Homo sapiens: one gene and its partner. The protein of the gene in region 1 purifies or fractionates together with the protein of each later gene. This does not show direct contact. Each region holds a gene or a part of one and is shown on either strand. Other genes may lie near its edges. The genes, in order: POM121C and NISCH.

What was found.
Region 2: the proteins of POM121C (region 1) and NISCH purify together in Homo sapiens (affinity purification with mass spectrometry, with the first as the bait; one large-scale study listed by BioGRID). This does not show direct contact.

Annotation. Positions count from the first base shown.
Region 1 is NC_000007.14:75,475,998-75,479,816, forward strand, and holds part of POM121C (nuclear envelope pore membrane protein POM 121C), read right to left. Parts: intron 1-3,819. UniProt on the Homo sapiens protein: Essential component of the nuclear pore complex (NPC). The repeat-containing domain may be involved in anchoring components of the pore complex to the pore membrane. When overexpressed in cells induces the formation of cytoplasmic annulate lamellae (AL).
Region 2 is NC_000003.12:52,458,552-52,462,370, forward strand, and holds part of NISCH (nischarin), read left to right. Parts: intron 1-110; coding exon 111-293; intron 294-3,819. UniProt on the Homo sapiens protein: Acts either as the functional imidazoline-1 receptor (I1R) candidate or as a membrane-associated mediator of the I1R signaling.

The DNA of each region.
Region 1 (3,819 bases):
GGCTGGGCATGGTGGCTCATGCCTATAATCCTAGCACTTTGGGAGGACGAGATGGGAAGATCGTTTGAGCTCAGGAGTTCGAGACCAGGTTGGGCAACATAGTAAGAACCTTATCTCTGCTAAAAATAAAATTTTTTTAAAAAATTGGCTGGGCATCATGGCACATGCCTGTAGTTCCAGCTACTTGGGAGGCTAAGGCAGGAGGATGGCTTGAGCCTGGGAGGTCAAGGCTACAGTGAGCTGTGAATGCAACACTGCACTCCAGCCTAGGCAACAGAGCGAGACCTTGTCTCAAAAAAAAAAAAAAAAGAAAAATGCAAAGCTCCTGGGCTCCAGCAATCCACCTGCCTTGGCCTCCCAAAGTATTGGGATTACAGGCTTGAGCCAGCATGCCCTGCCCAAACTTGCAGTTTAGAAAAAGGAAGTGCCCAGTAAGCATGTTGCATTATCCTGTTATTTATAAAGAACATATCAACAAGGGGTTCAAACCCAGTGATACAGCTAGGACCATGTAGATCCCAAGAGATAGCAGAGGCAGAGCTGCTAGGCTGGTGGGCTGAGAAACTAAAGCAGAACATCCAAGCTTATCCACAGGCAGGCCAAAGGAGCTGATAAAATCACCGAGAGAGAGTAATAACTTTCTGGGTTAACTTAGTCCAGAAGGCAAGGAGGTGGTGGGGGTTAGAAGACTGATCGACCAATAAATAACATAAAATTACATGTCAATACCACTTACATCAATACAAATACCCAAAATGAAACATAACCAAACAAAATCCAGTACCAGATTAAAAACATAATATACAACAGACAAATAGGACTTATTCCAACAATATAGACTAGTTTAATATTTGGAAATCTATTAATATGATAAGCCACTATAACACAGCAAAGAAGAAAAATCTTGTATCCATGAAGATACTTGAAAAAGCTTGACAGAAAAAGCTGATTTAAAAAAACAAACTAAAGAAAATAGAAACTGATGGATACTTCATTAACATCAATATTATATACACAAATATAAATATTACACCCTAATATGCCATAGTACGTATGATATGTGACATATGTATTTCAATTACACACAAGCACATATATACAGTTTGCGTGTATACACACACACACACACACACACACTCTTATGCCTCAGTCTTCTCGGTCCGAAAGTCAGGATTTTACTTAACAGGGAAAAACTACATATCTTCCCACTAAGATCAAGAACAAGGTATTAATAAAATGCTCATTATCTACAATTAGAGAAGAGAAAACAATTAGAGGAATATAACTAAGAAAAAGTAAAAGTGCTTGGGCACGGTGGCTCACGCCTGTAATCCCAACACTTTAGAAGGCCGAGGCGGGCAGATCACCTGAGGTCAGGAGTTCAAGACCAGCCTGGTCAACATGGTGAAACCCTATCTCTACTAAAAATCCAAAAACAACAACAAAATTAGTTGTAGTATTAAGGTCAACTTAATAATACAGAGATACCAGTTTCCCTAAATTACTTTATAAATATGCAATCCCAATAAAAATACCAAAAAGCTTTTTCCTGGAACTAGATAAGCTGACACTACAGTTCATATGAGGTGGAAGAAAATCAAAAATAGCTCAGGGAAAAAAAAATTTGGACATGGATAAAACTGGACCCAGGCCAGGTGTGGTGGCTCATGCCTGTAATCCCAGCACTCTGGAAAGCTGAGGCAGAAGGATTGCTTGAGGCCAGGAGCTTGAGACCAGCCTTGGCAACATAGCAAGACCCTGTCTCTACAAAGAAAATAATATATATATTAGAAAAAACATATAGACAGAGACATGAGGACTTCTGCCCTCAGGTGTGATAAATTAACAAGTACTGGATATACCCTCCAACCTGAAACAGCACACACCAAAGAACAACAAAATCAAAAACAGAAAGAAAAATAAAACAAGAACATATACGAAAGCAATGATTTGTTTTTTTGTTTTTGTTTTTGTTTTTTGTTTTTTGAGATGAAGTCTCGCTCTTGTCTTCCAGGCTGGGGTGCAATGGCACAATCTTGGCTCACTGCAACCTCTGTCTCCCGGGTTCCAGCAATTCTTCTGCCTCAGCCTCCCGAGTAGCTGGGATTACAGGCGTGCACCAGCATGCCCGGCTAATTTTTATATTTTTAGTAGAGATGGGGTTTCACCATGTTGGCCAGGCTGGTCTTGAACTCCTGACCTCGTGATCCGCCCACCTTAGCCTTGTTGTTGTTGCTGTGATTACAGGTATGAGCCACCACGCCTGGGCTGAAGCAGTGGTTTTCAAGGCACTGATTATCAGGCAGTAGAGTTATCTATGAGTGATGGGAAATAAACAAGGTGAACCAATCAACTTCTGCCTTGAGCGTTTCCAGGCCATGGAGCAGGGAAGAAGAACCGAGGCAGATGTGAGGAGAAAGAGTTGTGGGATGGGAAAATGGGCAGGAAATTACAACCCATAAGGAAGAAAAGAATCAGTCCATCAAAACTGGCCCAGAATTGACACAGAGTTCACAACCGGCACAGAGCACTGAGAGAGTTCATCGTTCTATTCCAAATGTTCAAAAAAATCAAGACAGGCAAGATGTAAAAAAGACCCACGCTAACCTTCTACAGATAGTACAATATCTGAGATGAAAATTATACTGGAAAAGATGAACAGCATCATGGAAAAAAGAGATTAGTGAATATAAAGACAGCAACAGAAGTTACATAAAATGAAACAGAGAAAGAAGAATTAAAAGCAAATAAAGAGCAACAGTGTGTTGTGGGAAAATTTCAAGTGGCCTAATATACAGGCAACAAGAATCAATGGAGGGGAGGTGGCGGGTACTTGAAGAGATAATGATAAAAATGTTCCCCAAGTGATGACACCATAAACCCAAGATCCAAGAAGTTCAATGATCCCCAAAACAGAAACATGAAAAAAATGATACCATGACATATTGCAATCAAATTGTCCAAAACTAGTGATAAAAAGTTTAAAACAATAAGGGGGGAAGAAAAAAAGACATGTTATATATAGGGGAACAAACATGAGTATGAGATCAGATTTCTCTTAGAAAAAAATGTAAGCAGGAAGACAACAGAGAAACATATTTAAAGCACTGTGGAGAAAAATCCAGCAAAAACACCTTTAAAAGCAAAGACACAATGAAGACATTTGCAGACATATAATAATTCATCATCAACTAGAAGAAATGTTACAGAAAGTCCTTCAGGCAGAAGTAAAATGACAGCAAATAAAAATTTAGATTTACACAAAGGAATGAAGAGTACCAGAAATGGTAACTGTGTATTTTCTCTCATTACTTAAATCTCTTTAAAAGATACCTGGGCCAAGTGTGGTGGCTCACACCTGTAATCCCAGCACTTTGGGCGGCTGAGGCAGATGGGTGACCTGAGGTCAGGAGTTCGAGACCAGCCTGGCCAACATGGCGAAACCTCGTCTCTACTAAAAATACAAAAATTAGCCGGGCGTGATGGTGGGTGTCTGTAATCCCAGCTACCCAGGAGGCTGAGGCAGGAGAATCACTTGAACCCAGGAGGCAGAGGTTGCAGTGGGCCAAGATAGCACCCCTGCACTCCAGCCTGGGGGACAGAGTGAGACTCTGTCTCTAAATAAATAAATAAATAAATAAATAAATAAATAAATACAGTTTAATTAACAACAACGTAATAGATAGTGTGTGGCACTGATACCACCTGTAAAAATAAAATGAACAACGGTGTAAAGACCAAGAGGAGAGAAATGGAAGTGTCCTATTGTAAGCTTCTCTTATTCTAGGAAAAATGGATATTACTTAAGAATAAACTATG
Region 2 (3,819 bases), on another chromosome or scaffold:
GAGGGGCTGTGCAAGTGCTGACAAGCGCCTGCCCTCAAGCTTCTTGCCTTGGTCTTACATAGGCACAGAGCCTCTTAGTCTGTGGTTGATGTGCTTATGTTTTTTTACAGCTCGTTGCAGAGAGAAAGATTGATAAAAATCTGCTTCCGCCCAAAAAGATAATTGGGAAAAACTCAAGAAGCTTGGTGGAGAAGAGGGAGAAGGATCTGGAGGTCTACCTCCAGAAGCTCCTGGCTGCCTTCCCTGGCGTGACCCCCAGAGTACTGGCCCACTTCTTGCATTTTCACTTCTATGTAAGTTCCTCATCGGGTTTTCACCTGTGCCTGCAAACCCACAACTGCCAAACTTGAGGCAGCAAACCAGGGGAGACCTCAGCTTTGAGGTGGGCTGGGGTTTGACCCTAGGTTAGAAGATGGAGGAACGTCACCCTGGTTAGGAATGCATTGTGGCCAGAAGCATGTTAGTTGACAGATTTGCCGTAAATTAGACTAAATGTGGCCACAGAGATGCTTTCCTCCACCACAAGGCATTTTGTTTAGCAAAAATGGCCTGTGGGTGTTTAAGCTAGGTTTCCATCCAGATGGATGAGGCTGGATTAGAAATAGCTGACACCTGGGATAGACTATTGTTGAGTTGTTGGTGCATAGCCCAAAACTAATTAAGGGATTAGTCTGTGATGGTGGAATATCACCATCTTGGGGCGTGTCATCAGGGTCCGCGCTGCCAGGGTGCTAAGGTTGAGGGTGGACACCTTCCTGTGATGGGAGAGTGTGTCATAGAACAGCTCTGTACTCCGTCCTTGAAAGAGGAACAACTTTCATAGGTTGCCGGTGACAGAATGCGTTGTCAGACTTTAAGAAGGGCACTTAGGCAGTGTGAAACCACAATATTTGTGCTTTTGAGACGGAGTCTTGCTCTGTCACCTAGGCTGGAGTGCAGTGGTGCGATCTCGGCTCACTACAACCTCCGCCTCTTGGGTTCAAGCAATTCTCCTGCCTCAGCCTCCCGAGTAGCTGGGACTACAGACTTGCACCACCACACCCAGCTAATTTTTGTATTTTTAGTAGAGATGGGGTTTCACCATGTTGGCCAGACTGGTCTGGAACTCCTGACCTCAAGTGATCTGCCTGCCTCAGCCTCCCAAAGTGCTGGGATTACAGGCGTGTGCCACCGCACCTGGCCAAAACCACAATATTAAATAGCAGTTCTATTTATGAGAATTTCTTCTAAGGAAAAATCAGGCAGCCGCAAAAAGGATATATGAACAAAGGTAGTCATTCCAGGATTGTAACAAAATAGTAAGGACAACCCTAAAGTCTAGTAGAAGAGGTTAAAAAAAAAAAATCAGGCCAGGTGCAGTGGCTCATGCCTGTAATCCCAGCACTTTGAGAGGCTGAGGTGGGCAGATCACTTGAGGTCAGGAGTTCAAGACCATCCTGGCTAACATGGTGAAACCCTGTCTCTACTAAGAATACAAAAATTAGCTGGGTATGGTGGCAGATGCCTGTAATCCCAGCTATTTGGGAGGCTGAGGCAGGAGAATCGCTTGAACCCAAGAAGCAGAGGTTGCAGTAAGTCGAGATCATGTCACTGCACTCCAGCCTGGGCAACAGAGTGAGAGTAAGACTTCATCTCAAAAAAAAAAAAAAAAAAAAAAAAAATCAAAGGGTACAGCCAGGCTGAGCACAGTGGCTCATGCCTGTGATCCCAGCTCTTTGGGAAAATAAAACAAAAAAGAAATCTGCAGCTCCACCATCATTATCCCAGCAGCACACCAGTCTTCCCAGCAGACACTGTCTCAAAAAAAATGCAACTTTCTTAAGCAGTATCCAACTGTATGGCTGTACTATTTTTTTTTTTTTTTTTTTGAGACAGGGTCTCACTCCATTGCTCAGGCTGGAGGACAGTGGCCTGATCATGGGTCACTGCAACCTCAAACTCCTGGGCTCAAGGGATCTTCCTGCCTCAACTTCCCAAGTAGCTGGAACTACAGGTGCATGCCACCACACCCAGCTAATTTTAAAAATTTTTTTGTAGAGATGGGGTCTTGCAGTATTGCTCAGGTTGGCCTCAAACTCGAACTCAAGCCATCCTCCCACCTCTGCCTCTCAAAGTGCTTAGACTGTAGGTGTGAGCCACTGCACCTGGCTGACTATGGTCTCATTTTTACAAAAAACAAGTTGATATGGACATATTTGTCTAGGAAAATTCTAGAAGGTTTACGTATACCAAAATGCTAAGAGTAGTTTTCTCTGAGTGATAGATTTTCAGATAATTTATATTTACTTGTTTTCCTTTTATATGATGAAGACAGGGAAGAATCCACTCCCTTTTCAGGCTCACCTTGAAGTAACCTGTGGATTATGGTCCTAAAAGCCCAGCTGTATTTAAAATACAACTTTCTTGGCCAGGTGCAGTGGCTCACGCCTGTAATCCCAGCACTTTGGGAAGGCCCAGACAGGCAGATCACTTGAGGCCAGGAGTTCGAGACCAGCCTGGCCAACATAGCGAAACCCTGTCGCTACTAAAAATACAAAAATTAGCTGCGCGTGGTGACTCATGCCTGTAGTCCCAGCTACTCAGGAGAGAGGCATGAGAGTCGCTTGAACCTGGGAAGGGGAGGTTGCAGTGAGCCGAGGTTATGCCACTGCACTTCAGCATGGGCCACAGAGACTCTGTCTCAAAGAAAAAAACAAAAACAGAAGAAACAACTTCCTTAAACTCTTTTCAGAGTAAGACAGTTGAACCTTTCTTGGATCACTAAAGAGCCTAGAAATTTGGTGGCGAGTGCTAACCTGGGGCCACTGAGCTTGGCAGGGACAGGTGGAAAAGTAGATAGCATTCACAGATGGGACCTGTGTATATGCTTTGGATTTTATTTAGCATATACCAGCAAGTATAGGGTTAGCAACATACCCTTTCGTAAACATATTTTTATACTTTCTTATGTGAGAAAAAATTTGCATTCCTTATGCAAGTCTTTCAGATAAACTTTACTGGTTAGTATTTTAAGAAATAATGTACTTTAAAGGCCGGGCGCAGTGGCTCACGCCTGTAATCCCAGCACTTTGGGAGGCCGAGGCGGGTGGATCACGAGGTCAGGAGATCGAGACCATCCTGGCTAACACGGTGAAACCCCGTCTCTACTAAAAATACAAAAAATTAGCCAGGCATGGTGGTGGGCTCCTGTAGTCCTAGCTACTCGGGAGGCTGAGGCAGGAGAATGGCGTGAACCCGGGAGGCAGAGCTTGCAGTGAGCCAAGATCGTGTCACTGCACTCTAGCCTGGGCGACAGAGCAAGACTCCGTCACAAAAAAAAAAAAAAAAGAAATATTGTATTTTAAGAAAGCTTTGGTTAGCCATTTAGGGATGAAACCTGACATGCAGTCCTTTGACGGTATTAATTCCTTGCTTGAGACCTATGCCTTTGAGGAGAGGAGGTCTCGCTGGCTGCCTCACGTGTGCCTGGCTCTGAGGGTGGAAAGGCCTGGACTGCTCTTTTGAAACTGGTTTGCCTGAGATGTGCCTGGGGCCGGCTACATCTGGTTCTGGTTTGAGGCAGGCTCCGCTACTTGTAGAAGTTTTGACATATTTGGAATTAGTATTATCAAACAGGTCCCTAGGTTATATAAATCCTAGGATTTAAAAAAGCAATTGAACCCATCGTTGGATTAAACCCACAGTTGATCAGCCATAGCACTGTTGACATTTTGGACTGGATAATTTGTTTCTGTAAGGAGCTGTCCCATGCATTGTTTAGCAGCACCCTGGCTTCTACCCACTGGATGCCAGTAGCACTTCCCCACCCAGCTATGGCAA